4 linked regions of the Homo sapiens genome follow. The protein of the gene in region 1 purifies or fractionates together with the protein of each later gene. This does not show direct contact. Each region holds a gene or a part of one and is shown on either strand. Other genes may lie near its edges.

Evidence for each region.
Region 2: the proteins of LLCFC1 (region 1) and FSTL1 purify together in Homo sapiens (affinity purification with mass spectrometry; one large-scale study listed by BioGRID and IntAct). This does not show direct contact.
Region 3: the proteins of LLCFC1 (region 1) and MGAT5 purify together in Homo sapiens (affinity purification with mass spectrometry; one large-scale study listed by BioGRID and IntAct). This does not show direct contact.
Region 4: the proteins of LLCFC1 (region 1) and IDUA purify together in Homo sapiens (affinity purification with mass spectrometry; one large-scale study listed by BioGRID and IntAct). This does not show direct contact.

The regions. Positions count from the first base shown.
Region 1 is NC_000007.14:142,937,375-142,942,362, forward strand, and holds LLCFC1 (sperm-egg fusion protein LLCFC1 precursor), read left to right. Parts: upstream 1-2,109; 5' UTR 2,110-2,247; coding exon 2,248-2,380; intron 2,381-2,977; coding exon 2,978-3,213; 3' UTR 3,214-3,494; downstream 3,495-4,988. Other genes in the region: KEL (kell blood group glycoprotein), read right to left, coding at 3,878-4,039. UniProt on the Homo sapiens protein: Sperm protein required for fusion of sperm with the egg membrane during fertilization.
Region 2 is NC_000003.12:120,402,493-120,405,992, reverse strand, and holds part of FSTL1 (follistatin-related protein 1 precursor), read left to right. Parts: intron 1-1,021; coding exon 1,022-1,140; intron 1,141-2,638; coding exon 2,639-2,751; intron 2,752-3,074; coding exon 3,075-3,185; intron 3,186-3,500.
Region 3 is NC_000002.12:134,260,572-134,264,071, forward strand, and holds part of MGAT5 (alpha-1,6-mannosylglycoprotein 6-beta-N-acetylglucosaminyltransferase A), read left to right. Parts: intron 1-3,500. UniProt on the Homo sapiens protein: Catalyzes the addition of N-acetylglucosamine (GlcNAc) in beta 1-6 linkage to the alpha-linked mannose of biantennary N-linked oligosaccharides.
Region 4 is NC_000004.12:1,000,544-1,004,043, forward strand, and holds part of IDUA (alpha-L-iduronidase isoform a precursor), read left to right. Parts: intron 1-68; coding exon 69-154; intron 155-338; coding exon 339-446; intron 447-924; coding exon 925-1,020; intron 1,021-1,135; coding exon 1,136-1,338; intron 1,339-1,438; coding exon 1,439-1,618; intron 1,619-1,725; coding exon 1,726-1,942; intron 1,943-2,188; coding exon 2,189-2,401; intron 2,402-2,492; coding exon 2,493-2,614; coding exon of another isoform or gene 2,615-2,801; coding exon 2,802-2,927; intron 2,928-3,005; coding exon 3,006-3,082; exon of another isoform or gene 3,083-3,086; intron 3,087-3,468; coding exon 3,469-3,500.

The sequences.
Region 1 (4,988 bases):
TGCCTGTAATTCCAGCTACTCGGGAGGCTGAGACAGGAGAATCACTTGAACCCAGGAGGTGGAGGTTGTAGGTGAGCTGAGATCGTGCCATTGCCCTCCCGTCTGGGCAACAAGAGTGAGACTCCATCTCAAAAAAAAAAAAGTGATTATCACTGGATGGTGGAATTATTAGCCTTTTTGGGGTTTTGTATTTTTCTATATTTTCTACTTTGTAATAAGAAAAAATATTTAAGGGATTCCCTGTTTTCTGCAAGAATTTATCTCTTTTAACACTGCGGAGGTCAGGCGGGTGGTGGTGGCAAGGAAATGGAAGTAATGGAAACAACTCAGTTATTTCCACTCAAGCCTGCCCGGGAGGCAATTCTCACCCCAGCCGCCCTCCCCATTCATTCCCACAGAGCTGGAGATGGCTTCTCTTTTTGCCAGGAAACCAAGAGGCTGCTCCCCCAAAATAGCCAGGAGGGAGGAGATTAGTGATGGTTTTTTCCATTCAAGCATCATTCTTTGGATCTCACGTCAATGGGTTCAAGGTGGGGTGAGCAGGGTCACCTGCCTACTTGAATCTTTCCTTACTCACCTTCAAGCGACCTCCGTACCACTCCCTAGTCCCTTGTCATCTGGCTTGGACCATCAGGAAGTGTGTAAGAGATGGTGTCTGCTGTATGTGAGACAGCATCCATGTGGGCATGTCTGCTAACACGAGTAAACTCTGTGGGAAAGCATCTCTTTGTGTGTTTCTGTCTGCAGTTCCCTCTTGCAGAAAGGGTGCCTGTCTCCGCAGTGTCCTTGGACCTGCATGTGGTATTTCATTCAGGTCTGGTATGCATGGATGAGCAGGAGCAGTGTGAACTGGTTATGAGAGTTCAGGAGTGACTAAAGTCTTCTCTTACCTGTCTTAGCAGCCATCCTGCATCTAATGGCCTATGTCTCTGTTGCTGGTTTTCGAAAAAAGGCCTTCATTCTGTCTCCCTAACTCACAACCCTCCAACCATCTCTGCCCAAGAAGCAGTTGGGGGTGATTACCCACAGCCGGTTACTGCCAACAGATCTGTGCTCACCAGGCTCATGGGCAGGAGGCGCATCCAAGTACTGAGGCAGGATTCTCCCAGATCTGTTATTTGGGATCCTAGACTCCCTGCCGCACTGCGGCTTCTCTGCAGACTCTAACTCCTTTTGCCAAGCAATGAGGTTGGAGATGAGCCTCTAACAACCTTTTCTTTCGTCTAAGAGTACAGAAAGGTGTAAAATGAAAGAAGAGGGTGTTTCAACCTGGTGGTACAAGAGGACAAAGGCTAGAAAAGTGGGAAAACCAGGGGAGGGTGAAGAGAGGGTGTGAATGGGCTCTACCAGCTGCAAGGCACCCTGCTCTTTGTCTCTCGCTCTCTCTCCGTTCACTCTCTCTTCATCTGTCTCTCTGTCTCTGCGTCTCTATCTCTCTGTCTCTACCCCTCAGTTTCTGCCTGTCTCGGTCTCTTTCTTTCTCTCTTTTTCTATGTCTCTGTCTGTCTCTGCCTGTCTATGCCTGTCTCTGTCTCTGTGTCTTTTATACACACACACAGCATGTGCTTTTACCCATCCTTACCCTATGCTCCTCCCCATCTTTATTTTCTGGCAGACCCATGCTTCATGTAGAGCAGCATGTTCATACCCACGACTTGAGAATCCTGTCCGGCTCATCTGTTCTGGGCCTCATCCTATGCAAACCACTCTTGTTACAGAAAGGCCACATAGAATAGTGGGAAGATATCATATTTAAAAGTAAAAGTTAATCAAGAGTCCTTTTCTGCCCCTTAGTATTTGGGCGATTTTGAGTGAGAGAGTCATTTTTTCTGTGAGCCTCAGTTTCCTCATGAATGTAATAGATATGAGAACACTATGATTTTGCAGTCCTGGTTTCTACGTGGATCTAATGGTGTAATGGATATGAATGTACATTGCAAGCTGTTAAGTCATTTCTGCTAAATACAGAATGACCCACTGTGGTCATCTTGGAAGCCTCGGCCATCCCTGCTGGCTGTGCTCCATTCTTGTGCCTCGCCATTGGAACGCTCTAGTGAGCCGGAATGAAGTTCAGGCCCATGGCTGTGATGTCACAGAACATGTGAAGTCAGAGGTCCTATGGAAGGTGAGGGGAGAAAATGCCCCTGGAAAGGGTTAAGGGCCAGGACAGGAATGGGGCAGGAGGTGCACGGATCCTGCTGGGCACTGGGAGCAGGGGGCGGCCAAAGGCAGTGGGTGGGCAGGTCCATGCCTCCCCTGGCCCCCCAGCTCTGCAGGGCAGTGTTCCTGGTTCCTATCTTGCTGCTGCTGCAGGTGAAGCCTCTGAACGGGAGCCCAGGCCCCAAAGATGGGAGCCAGACAGAGAAAACGCCCTCTGCAGGTAGGTGGAAAAAAAGACAGGAGCCATACAGAGAAAACACCCTCTTCAGGTAGGTAGAAAAAAAGACGGGAGAGTCTGGAGGCTCAGGGTGAGGTCTGTGTGAGGCCAGGCCCCAGGTCACTGATGAGGCTAGGGTGAGACCTGACATAGGTCTGGTTTATGGGGGGTAACTCCAGCCACTGATGGTTATCATGTGAAATAATAGTGTCGGCTCACCATGGGCCAGCTGAGCTTGCATGCAACTTCTGTGTGTGTAAGCATGGTGCATTTGGCTGGCTTTTGTCATGCTTCAAGGTGGCCCCTGACTCCCCCAGTGTTGAAACCCTAGAGGAGGCAGCTAACCTTAGGAATGGTGTGTGTGTGTGTGTGTGTGTGTGTGTGTGTGTGTGTGTGTGTGTGTGTGTTTGAGTTGGGGCTGTGATTGAACACAGACCAGAAAAAACCTCTAGAAAGAGCATCCCCTCTCTGGTGAAGGCTAAGGATATGGGCAATTGGGACTGCAGCCCTAGGCTTCAACGTGTTTTTCCTATTCTAACTTCTCCTTTCTGGTTCAGGCCAGGGTCAGGGCTCAGTCCTTGTCCTTTTCCCCTGTTCCAGACCAGAATCAAGAACAGTTCGAAGAGCACTTTGTGGCCTCCTCAGTGGGTGAGATGTGGCAGGTGGTGGACATGGCCCAGCAGGAAGAAGACCAGTCGTCCAAGACGGCAGCTGTTCACAAGCACTCTTTCCACCTCAGCTTCTGCTTTAGTCTGGCCAGTGTCATGGTTTTCTCAGGAGGGCCATTGAGGCGGACATTCCCAAATATCCAACTCTGCTTCATGCTCACTCACTGACCCTCCCTCCCTCCTGGGCTCCAGGTCACAACTCCCAAAGGAGATGCAGGCATGGCTCTCTGCCTCTGATCACCATCACTGTATCTCAAGGTTCAGCAGCAGAGATACCAGTTGCCATCAGTGCTAACTGACTGCCTCTCCAGGTTCGGAGTTTCATCTCCCAGGGCCAGAGACAGCAGACCCACATCCTTCTCTCCCACACCTCTCCTGGTTTTGTTCAGGACAGCAGATTAGAGGCAGGAGGCAATGACAATAAAATAACGATAAAATCCTGAGAACAATTGGGAGCAGCTTTCCGATACTTAATCCAAGCCCTTCTCGTCTCCAACTAGACTGCTTTATTGTCCAATCTTTGGTCCACTGGGTGGCCTTCAAACCCACCAGGTCACCAATTGTTGATTCTTTCCTTTTCTTGTGTCCATGAAACATTTTTGGCATTTCTCCCTCTTATCTTTTCTAACTTCAGGGTATTTTTCTCCCGTACAGTTAATGACTTCCAGGCATAGAACATAGCAGGAACAAGTCATTAAGAGACAAGCGGAAGCCAAGTGCCAGCTTTTATTTTTGGAACAGAAGCAGAAAGGAAATCTTGCTCTGATTCCATGGATGTGACCAGGGAGGTGTTGGTCGATATTTCTGTGCTGTGGCATCTTTGGTAACCAAGTTACCAGAGCTGGCAGCGGCTGGAGGGGTTCAAGAGAGCACCACGTGCACAGCGGAAATACCTGGCAAAGGCTGGGGTGCTGCTGAGGGGCCCGTGGACTCGGAGGTGTGGAGGGCTGTGAGTGTCGTGAGAGTCCTGGGGGCTGGGCTTCCTACACATCACCTGAGCAGGAAGAGAGGTCATTGAAGGGGGAGGGTCCACAGGACAAAGCTGACCCGGTGACAAGGGGTGATCAGGGACAGCAGACAAAGAGGGGAACCAGGGGATCAAGTGCCCCAAGGGCCACATGGAGCATTTGAAATGTATAGTTCATTTAATCTGGCAATAGGAGTCCAGGAGGAGGGCCTGGGCTGTGTAATGATACCATTTATCAATGACAGAGAGGCAGGGTCTAGCGCAGGAGCTCTGGGGTGAAGTCTAATCTAAGCGTGTTGAAGACCTGGCACCTGAGTCTGTTGAGGGAGTACAGGGTGCTTAAGGAGGTGATGTCAAGTGGGCGCCACACCTAAGGTCAGGTGTCTGAAGAGGAATGTGGCACACAGTCAGCCTGTCGCAGGCTTTTTTTTTTTTTTTGTGAGACTGAGTCTTGCTCTACCACCCAGCCTGGAGTGCAGTGGCATGATCTTGGCTCACTGCAACCTCCGCCTCCCAGGTTCAAGCGATTCTCGTGCCTCAGCCTCTCAAGTAGCTGGGATTACAGGCGCCCGCCACCAAGCCCAGCTAAGTTTTGTATTTTTAGTAGAGACGGGGTTTCACCATATTGGCCAGGCTGGTCTTAAACTCCTGATCTCAAGTGATCCGCCCACCTCGGCCTCCTAGAGTGCCAGGATTACAGGTGTGAGCCACTGTGCCCAACCACAGGCTCATTTTTAAGGCATCTGTATTTTGGGGGTATGAGAGGAAAAAAAAGTTGGTCTCCTCCTCTCCTGGAGGAACTTGGGAATAGAGTTTTTTCTACCTTTTGAGTTGTGGGGGTGCTGAACTAGGTAGAAGAACCTGTAGTCATCTGAGGGGTGATTCCAAGGGGTAGGGAGGGAAGAGAAAAGATAACAGTGAGGACATCTGCAGAAGAGGGTTTGGGGTATTTGACGGAGTGTCTGAAGAGGGGACT
Region 2 (3,500 bases), on another chromosome or scaffold:
ACCATCTGGGGAGCCATCTTGAAAGTAACATGGGGAAGCTGATCCTTTCCCAGGGCAGCAGCATGAGGGAGCCTAGGGAAAGGATTTGGGAGGAAGGGGGAAAATGTTATTGAAATTTGTTAGGAGAGCAGCCATATGCAACTTGGAATTTGATCAGTCTTGATTTGACACCCTCCTCCTGCAGCTAGTGCCTGGGTGTCTTGAATGGTCCCAGATGGCTGAGGTCTCAGTTTAGCATCTTGCCATAGAGAACAGTGTGTGAGCTTACTGCACTCCTCACTTTGTGCTTGTGGGATGCCAGCTGGGTCATGAGGGCAGCCTGAGCTGGATGATCTGAGGACCTGTGCACACATCTGCAGTGGGGCCCACAGGGCAGAGGAGCGGGAACTTTGCATGATGACCCCTGTCTGTAGCTTATTGCTTTGAGGCCTTTGCCTGAGTTCTCACTGATGTGATCAGTTACGGGCACCAAAGTGAAAGTTAAGCACTGAGAACAGGACAAGGAGGCTGGAATCAAGCAACAAGATTTGGAATCCTATAATTCCAAAGTGAGCTCAGAGGGTCATCTGCATTGCTGCTGTTCCTGAGCAGCTCATTAGAAACATATTCTGGGACCTGCTACAGAGATTCTGATTCACAGCGTGCAACTTTAAACTCTTGTTACATGTTCATCAGGGCTTGAGAACATGATGTGCAGGTTGGTCTGAACCCAAAGGTATAGTCAAAAGTGTCTACAGGGCAGTGTCAGAGATGGGGCCACACAGCATGCTTAGGGACCCCAGAGGCCTCAGTTCAGGTTGCCTCCTCTGCCCAGGCACTTTTCCTCTCTCATTGTGGGCACAGGTACCTTCTCTGCATGTCCCAGGGATTAGAGCATTTGTTGCCAAGGCCCTCTGAGGTCAGGGCAGGGTTGGAATGTATCAAGAACAAGATGAATCAGAGGCAGGTCAGCTGAGTGGAGTAATGATGGAACAGGGGTTCTGCAAAACATCCCTGAACGATCTTGTCATGCCCTTTCTAGAACTTTGATAATGGTGATTCTCGCCTGGACTCCAGTGAATTCCTGAAGTTTGTGGAACAGAATGAAACTGCCATCAATATTACAACGTATCCAGACCAGGAGAACAACAAGTTGCTTAGGTGAGAGGAACCGAGAGGTCAGAGAATGATCCACAAGGGAAGACTAACTGAGAGAGGGGACTTAAACCCTTTCCCACCTGCAAAAGAGCCACCAGTGAGAGAATGTCACGTAAAAAGCAAAATGGGAATTCTGTCCTGTTCTATTCTATGAAAGTATGAATTAATATATTGAGTACCACTGATATCTAATCAAATAGTTATTGTTTTTGGTCAGAACTTGCAAGGACTAGAAGAATATAATTTTAAAATAAATTGCCAAGGGCACGTCAGAGCAAGTTATTTCTGAATGTTGTGGGTGATGTTTTACTGATTAATTTTCTGAAGGAATTACAGTAATGTATTATTTAACTATAGGTCTAAAATAGCTTTGTTCTGATTTTTAGATAATTAGTGCTATTTCATGTCAATTGCCCTAACTGTTACAGATATATGCCCGTCTACTTTTATGGCATTATTCCAGAATCAATATTAATAAAAACTAATCGCTAAGAAACTTTTGATGTGGTTTCAGCACATCGGTAAGAATTAAAAATAGGAAAAGCATGTCTTTTTTTCAAAAGAAGTGCATTGCACAGTTTCTAGAAGGATTCTTCTTTAATAATAGTCTATGACCTTAAAGTATAGGTTCTGTAAATCCTTCATATTTTGATAATCTGAAATTATATGTTTTATAATTTCAACGTTTGAGCCTCATGATATCCCAGTGAAGGAGGGCTTCTTGTCCTCCTTTTACGGATGGGAAGACAGGCTCAGAAAAGTTGAATAACTAACTCAAGTCCATTTGAGTAGTAAGTGATTGAGCCAGGGCTCAAATACAGCCCAAGAAAGAAGTGATGGAGCTGAGTTTTTTTTTGTTTGTTTTGTTTTTTGTTTTTTTTTGTTTTTGTTTTTGTTTTGTTTTGTTTTTGTTTTTTTTTTTTTTTTTTTTTTTTGAGACGGAGTCTCGCTCTGTCGCCCAGGCTGGAGTGCAGTGGCGGGATCTCGGCTCACTGCAAGCTGATGGAGCTGAGTTCTAAAAGCTTTTCTGAAAATCTCTTTCTAGAAGGATGATAATGGTGATTCTTGCTTGAACTTCATATTCTTTCAAATCCTATATTCCTTTCATGTCATCTGTCATATCTCTTCTGTTTTGATTTTCCTAGTTTGGTTGACTTGACGTGTATATACCATGGGGAAAAGCAATTGCTAGTGGAAGGTATGCAGGCAGTGAAAACATTAGACAAAACCATTCACGAAACTTTAGTCATCTTAAGGGGGGGAACATTTGGACAGCCTGGGTGATCTGACATTCATATAACAAACTAAAGGTTAGATGCCTGCATTGGTCAGGATGGATAATAGTTGTGTTGGGTCAGTGTAGAGAGAGGCTGTTTTAGTTAGCAGTCATCTTCTTGGCCTCCTGTGGAGGCCCTGGGTGTATGTGGTCCTGATGCTTACTTCCTTTCTTCTGAGCGAAGCTGAGGTCTTGCTAACACATTTCTCCTGTGTTTTGTTTCAGGGGACTCTGTGTTGATGCTCTCATTGAACTGTCTGATGAAAATGCTGATTGGAAACTCAGCTTCCAAGAGTTTCTCAAGTGCCTCAACCCATCTTTCAACCCTCCTGAGAAGAGTATGCCTAACCTAAGAAATAGAGAGCTGTAGTGAATGGAGGCATTTTGTAGGAGCCAAGATAGAGAGGATTGGTGGAACTCTCCAGAGCTAGCTGAGAAAATCCCCTTCCATGATTCTAAACTGGGCCCCAGCCCATTCTCCCCATGGTGAAGTTAGGGCCCCACATTCTTTAGGTTGATGGTAGTGTTTGCTCAGATATAGTGCTTCTGAGGGACAGGCAGGTCTTGTCTGGGAAAAAAGGGTAAGGTGCACAGACTGTAGCAAAGATGCCCTGTTCCACCCTCACAGCTAAACTGTTGCCCCGTATTTCTGGCCCAACAGAGTGTGCCCTGGAGGATGAAACGTATGCAGATGGAGCTGAGACCGAGGTGGACTGTAACCGCTGTGTCTGTGCCTGTGGAAATTGGGTCTGTACAGCCATGACCTGTGACGGTGAGCTGTGCTTCAAGCAGAAAGAAAAAACAGCAAGGAGAGAGCTTCATGAAATCAGCATGAGAGAAGTTGGGGTGGGGATGATGGAGAAGAGGGCGGTGGCTGGGAGCAAGGAACCCAGGCAGACCCACACCTGTAAGGTTGGAGCCCCAAGTGGGGAGCTTTGAGGGCAGAACATTTATCCCATAGGCATTCAGTTTGAAAATCACTCCAGAGGCTTGGAATAAGAGAGGACCAAGACCCTGGGCAAAAGTAAATGATAATGGAATAGTAACATTATGGAAATAGTAACAGTGAAAGTAGTAATAATGGAAT
Region 3 (3,500 bases), on another chromosome or scaffold:
ATTTCATTAAAGATGCAAGCATGTAAAGGGTTTTTTAGTTTGTTTTGTTTTTCCACTTTTTTTTTGTGTCTCTCTTCCTACAAATAGGGAAATATGGTCAAGGAATAGGAATGGTTTCTTTTTTCTTTTTCTTTTTTTTTTTTTTTTGAGGGCTGGGACTGTTGTGGGATAATGTGGAAAACCACTGTTGCCAAAGTAGAAATCCCCTGCCCTTGAGGGAAATACACTGTTCTTGAAGTGAAAATGGTAGGGAAAAAAATAGCTGGGCTGTTCAGTGTGTCTGAGAAGGCTTTTAGTTACTGTATGGTGACGTGGCTGGTGTGATTAAAGAAAGGGCTTTCTGCTTTAAAAAGCTTGGAACCTAAAAATGGGCCTCTCTGTGGCTTGGGACTTTTCCAGCCATCCTGTGGTAGAGTCCAGCCTGCCCAGTATCCTCATCAAAGCCAGGCCAAGTTCACAAGCACGCCCAGGCCAGTCAAAAGGTCTGAGGAAGACCTCAGAAATGTTTTAGACAGGAGGAGTAAACTCAGAATAAGGGGCTCATTCTTCTACCCCTCAGTCATTAAGACCCTTTCTTTCATGCAGCACCACTACTTCAAGTCTGGATTGAGGAGGGATTGCACGCACATGTGTGAGGTTGGAGTCTCAATCTCAATGTGATTGTCATTGCCATGTTCAAACGATGAGGCTTAGAATGTCCCTTGTCTTACCTGATGGTCATAGCTCTCTATGACCCTCTGCTTCTTCCCAGCTGTGTCCTGGTGCTCTTTTGCTGTCAGAAGTGCTTGAGCAGACCTCTTGCTGCTGTGGACACCCTAAAAAGCTCCGCACCCCCTCAAGTCTACTAAGGCATGGTGGCTCTCTTCTAGGACAAGACTGTTGGGTGGTGGCTGAGCATTCGCCTGTCTTTGAGCGTCTGCATTTGCTCTCCCCCACCCCTTCCTCTCTTCCTTCTTTGTTTGTAAATAAAGTTGGTTAGAACACAGCCATGCGCATTCCATTCTGTTTCAGAGAAGTTAGCCTTCCCTCCTTCACAGGAGGGCCCAAACCCACTGTTACTCTCATTCTTTATAACACTCAAGCTACTTAGCATCAAGTATTTGTTGTATGAGCTGATCATGTGTCTCTCCCACTTACAATGTAAGTTCTGAAAGAGGAGGGACTTTGGTCTGTTTTGTTCCCCACTGTGCCCCAGAGCTTAGTACCTTTTGCCTGGCACATAGTAAGAGCCATGAATGAATAGCAGCAGCCCCTGGTGAAACTCTGTGATGCTCTGTGTGGTACAGTTACAGCTGGGACTCATTTGAAAATCACAGTAATGTTTTTAGTGAAGCAGGAAATGAGAAGAAATTCCCTATGGGCTCTGCATCTAAGAGGCTCCAAGTAGCTCTTATGCATGATCCTAACATGGGAACCATTGTTTATTCTGGAAGGTAGTTAGTGTTTCTGTTGGGCGGATGGAACACATTGTGTTCCTTACTGATGTGTGACCTTGAACAAGTCACCGATCATCTTAAAGCTTACTTCCTCTTTTGTAAAACAGACAATATAATATCATTTAACCTCATAGGCTTGTTGTAAGGATTACAAATGACAAAGTTTATTAAGGCACTTAGATTAATTTAGATTATTCTTGTTCTTTTTTTTTGGTGTTGTTTTTGTTTTATTTTGTTTTGTTTTGTTTTGGAGATAGAGTCTTGCTCTGTCACCAAGGCTGAAGTACAGTAGTGTGATCAGGCTCTAGCAACCTCCCCCTCCCAGACTCAAGCCTTATGCCCACCTCAGCCTCCAGAGTAGCTGGGACTATAGGCATGTGCCACCACACTAGGCTAATTTAAAACAAAAGTTTTTTTCTGAAGATGGAGTCTCACTGTATTGCCCAGGCTGGTCTCAAACTCCTGGCCTCAAGTGATCCTCCCATCTCAGCCTCCAGAGTAGCTGGGACTATAGGCATGTGCCACCACACTAGGCTAATTTAAAACAAAAGTTTTTTTTCTAAAGATGGAATCTCACTGTATTGCCCAGGCTGGTCTCAAACTCCTGGCCTCAAGCGATCCTCCCACCTCAGCCTTCCAAAGTGCTGGGATTACAGGTGTGAGCCACTGTGCCCAACCAGCGCTTAATTAAAATGCATTCATTCCTATTAGTAATCACTAACTCTGGCTTGAATGTACCTGCATCTGTTACCACCCAGGCATAACTGTTCATGTAGATCTGACGTTGTTCATTTGTTTGAACACAGGGCTTCAGCAACCTGTTTATGTAGCTATTCTTAGCATTTACAGGGGTAGAGCCTGACCAGACATGAGAGGAAATATGCTCTGTTTCAGAAGAGGTCAGGCTTGCCACCACCCTACTAAACTAGGAGATGTGGTTGTCATTGCCCTGTTCAAAAGATACAGTTTTCTTCTGTGGGCTGTAAGATAAGCTGGGTATGGCCAAGTTCACCTTTGGATCTAACCAGGGCATTGGTGGTGGTGGTGTTTCTGGCATGGTACAGCAAGCAGGAAGCAGTAGTGTGCGAGGCCACCCTTTCCAAGAAGGTGCGGGCCCTGGCATCAGGTGGGGGACAATGGATAACAATAGGCTTGACCTCTCAGCACTTCTCTGATTCCTTATCTTTTCTATAAAAAAGGCTAAAATTCTTGGTTCCTATTCCCTGCAGCTGGCTACATGTTAGGAAAATTCAAAGAATAGCTTAAGAACTCTATTCAGGTTCCATAAAGCACTTAATATCATCAACAGGCCTAGAAAGGATCTTTTACCAGATTTCGATGCATGGAAACTTCCTCAATAGTAATGACACCCTCTGCAACACCTTAGGAAAAACATTCGCTTCTGGGCACAAGTTCTGGTGAAAGCTTAAATCTGTAGTTCTAACCCAGAAGAGAAGGCTAGTCAGTGTTGCTGAGCATCTGAGCTGCTCTTTGACTTTGGTGATAATTGTTTTATGCCCTTTTCTGTCCAGAATCTGCTGACTGGGACAACTGCAGGGTGGAAGCCACCTTTTTGTCAGTTCAGGAGCAGGCAAATTATCTAACATGTGGCTTTAAAATTCAAATGAGATAAGGCAGTAAGGGTCACTAAGATGTTTCTGGTGGGTATTGCCTTACATGACTTTAGGGTACTGGTGGCACTATCTTTGATTCTTAAGAGTACAATTCATTGTACTATGTATATATATTTAAAATAACACTTAATGCCTTTGTGACTTTGAAAATAATGTGAATTTTTATGTAAAATTAAAGCATATGAGGAAGTATGGAGAAGAATAAAGAATAAATACACTCTTTACCTCTAAATGCAGATCTTACCAGATAAAATTGATTTCCCTTTAGTTCTTTAAAAAAAAAAAGTGATACGTACATGTGTGTATATGTGTATATATGTACATGAATATATGCTTTTTTAAAAATTAAGATACTGCATTTCCTTATGCCATTAGGTTTTTTTTTTTTTTTTTTTTTTGAGATGGAGTTTCACTCTTGTTGCCCAGGCTG
Region 4 (3,500 bases), on another chromosome or scaffold:
ACGGTTCCAGCCTGGAGCATGGAGCTGTGTGGGCACCCTGCTTCCTGACGCTGACCGTCCTTCTGCAGGGGGTCCACTGGACGGGGCCTGAGCTACAACTTCACCCACCTGGACGGGTACCTGGACCTTCTCAGGGAGAACCAGCTCCTCCCAGGTGAGCTGTGGGCTCTGCCCTCCCAGCCCGCCTGCACCCCCTTGCCCTGCCCACCCTCTCCCTCACCCAGCCCCTCTGAGTCCTTGGATGTCCATTCAGGGCTGGCCTTGGTGCCGGAGCACAGGCCTGGCAGAGCATGGGTGTGGTGTGTGGTGGGCGGTGGGGCAGCCCTCCTGTGTTCCAGGGTTTGAGCTGATGGGCAGCGCCTCGGGCCACTTCACTGACTTTGAGGACAAGCAGCAGGTGTTTGAGTGGAAGGACTTGGTCTCCAGCCTGGCCAGGAGATACATCGGTGGGCGAGCGCAGGCCCTGGGGCCCTGGCCGGGGCGGGGGTACTCCTGGGCAGGTTGCACCCCTATCACGCAGGCTGCTGCCTGGTCAGGAGATACATTGGTGGGCAGGCGCAGGCCCTTGTGGGGGGATGGGGGTGACAAGGGATAGGTTGGTGGTCGGCGCAGGCCCTGGGGCCCCAGGCTGGGGGGTACTCCTGGGCTTGGTGGGTGGGCGAAGGCCCTGGGCCCCTGGGGTGGGGGGTACTCCTGGGCAGGCTGCACCCCTATCACCCAGGCCGCACCCCTATCACCCAGGCCGCCGCCCAGGTCTTGGACCCCCTTGAGCCAGCGCTTCCTGATGTGGGGCGGGAGGCTGGCCTGCATGGAGATGGGGTTCATCTTGAGTCAGACGCCCTTCATCACCTTGCACCCTCCCTCCGTGGGAGTCACTGAGGCGAGATTCACCTGTGCTGGGGGGACAGCAAGGCTCCTCTGCAGGTAGGTACGGACTGGCGCATGTTTCCAAGTGGAACTTCGAGACGTGGAATGAGCCAGACCACCACGACTTTGACAACGTCTCCATGACCATGCAAGGTGTGCACCGCTTCCTGGGGTCCTGCCCGGCTGAAAGGGGGCAGAGGAAGGCAGGAGCAGAGGCTAAGCCGCTCATCCCCAGGGCAGGTGTAGACGCAGTGCTCCCCCGGCCCAGGCTTCCTGAACTACTACGATGCCTGCTCGGAGGGTCTGCGCGCCGCCAGCCCCGCCCTGCGGCTGGGAGGCCCCGGCGACTCCTTCCACACCCCACCGCGATCCCCGCTGAGCTGGGGCCTCCTGCGCCACTGCCACGACGGTACCAACTTCTTCACTGGGGAGGCGGGCGTGCGGCTGGACTACATCTCCCTCCACAGGAAGGTGCGCCCTGCCCCTCCGTCCGCCCCGGTGTTCTGCGCCCTCAGCCGCTGTGCCCCGGGCCGCGCTGACCCTGGTGGTGCTGAGGCGGCCCCGCCCGCAGGGTGCGCGCAGCTCCATCTCCATCCTGGAGCAGGAGAAGGTCGTCGCGCAGCAGATCCGGCAGCTCTTCCCCAAGTTCGCGGACACCCCCATTTACAACGACGAGGCGGACCCGCTGGTGGGCTGGTCCCTGCCACAGCCGTGGAGGGCGGACGTGACCTACGCGGCCATGGTGGTGAAGGTGGGCCGGCCCAACGCCCTGCGCGCCCCCCGGCCACCTTCCTCCCGAGACGGGACAGGCGAGCGGTGGCCGCGCCACCCGGTCCCAGCTGCCCTGGACACCCGCAGGTCATCGCGCAGCATCAGAACCTGCTACTGGCCAACACCACCTCCGCCTTCCCCTACGCGCTCCTGAGCAACGACAATGCCTTCCTGAGCTACCACCCGCACCCCTTCGCGCAGCGCACGCTCACCGCGCGCTTCCAGGTCAACAACACCCGCCCGCCGCACGTGCAGCTGTTGCGCAAGCCGGTGCTCACGGCCATGGGGCTGCTGGCGCTGCTGGGTGAGCCGGGGCCGCTGGGGTGGGCCGGCCAGGGCCCTCCAGGCTGGGGAGCGGCTCCTGCGAAGGCCCCGCTGCGGGGAGCGCACTTCCTCCAGCCGCGCGCTTCCCGGGGTCGGCCTCCGCGTGGCGGGGCCTGGGGACTCCTTCACCAAGGGGAGGGGGAGCGAGTGGTGGGAGGCCCGGCCCTGGGTCGGGGGGCGGCTGGGCAACGACCCCACGCGGCGACGGCCCCCCCCCGCCCCGCAGATGAGGAGCAGCTCTGGGCCGAAGTGTCGCAGGCCGGGACCGTCCTGGACAGCAACCACACGGTGGGCGTCCTGGCCAGCGCCCACCGCCCCCAGGGCCCGGCCGACGCCTGGCGCGCCGCGGTGCTGATCTACGCGAGCGACGACACCCGCGCCCACCCCAACCGCAGCGTCGCGGTGACCCTGCGGCTGCGCGGGGTGCCCCCCGGCCCGGGTAAGCCGGGGTTCCAGGGAGGTCTCTGGCCCCGCTGGGGCTCTGGAGGGGGCGGCCCGGGGAGCCGAGGCCTGAGTGTCAGGCCCCGCAGGCCTGGTCTACGTCACGCGCTACCTGGACAACGGGCTCTGCAGCCCCGACGGCGAGTGGCGGCGCCTGGGCCGGCCCGTCTTCCCCACGGCAGAGCAGTTCCGGCGCATGCGCGCGGCTGAGGTAGGTGGGCCGCGGAGGGGCGAGGGGCCGGGCCGGGCCGGGGTCCCGGGGGGGTGGGGTCCGGGGCGGGGGCTCCGAGGCGGTGTGGGTGGGAGGTGGAGCGGTGGGCCGGGGGCGTTCGCCCTGAGGTCGGGCCGAGCGTCCCCAGCTCCCCTGGAGAACCCTGAGGACCGGCCACTGCGCCCAGGACCCGGTGGCCGCGGCGCCCCGCCCCTTACCCGCCGGCGGCCGCCTGACCCTGCGCCCCGCGCTGCGGCTGCCGTCGCTTTTGCTGGTGCACGTGTGTGCGCGCCCCGAGAAGCCGCCCGGGCAGGCAAGTGGCAGTCCCCTAACCCGCGCCGCGGCCCGGACTCCCCTTCCCCGACGCCATCACAGCCCTTCCCTCCCCCAGGTCACGCGGCTCCGCGCCCTGCCCCTGACCCAAGGGCAGCTGGTTCTGGTCTGGTCGGATGAACACGTGGGCTCCAAGTGCGTGAGTGGGGCCGCCCCTCCCTCTGCCTGGTCCTAGGCAGGTCCCTGGGTCCCGACCCCTTCACCCATGCGGTCACTCGGGCCACTTGCCGTGGCCCATCGGCTCCCTCCCTCGCCGCCCTGCGTCCCTGCCCTTCACCCCACACACTGTGGGCCACGCGCCAGGCCCTGCCAGTGGGGTGTGGGTTCTCCTAGGGGACATGAGATGGACATTCGGGCTCCAGCCCTCTCCTGCCTGGGCAGGAAGAGTGCCCAGGGGCTGGGGAGGTGCCGCCGAGGGGCTTGAGGGAATGAGGCTGTGGGTCCACGCGGCCGTGCCCTGCCTGCTCCCACCTTTGAGGACTGTCTTGACCCCAGCCTTGTTCTTGGCCTGACCTCCCCAGGTGCCTGTGGACATACGAGATCCAGTTCTCTC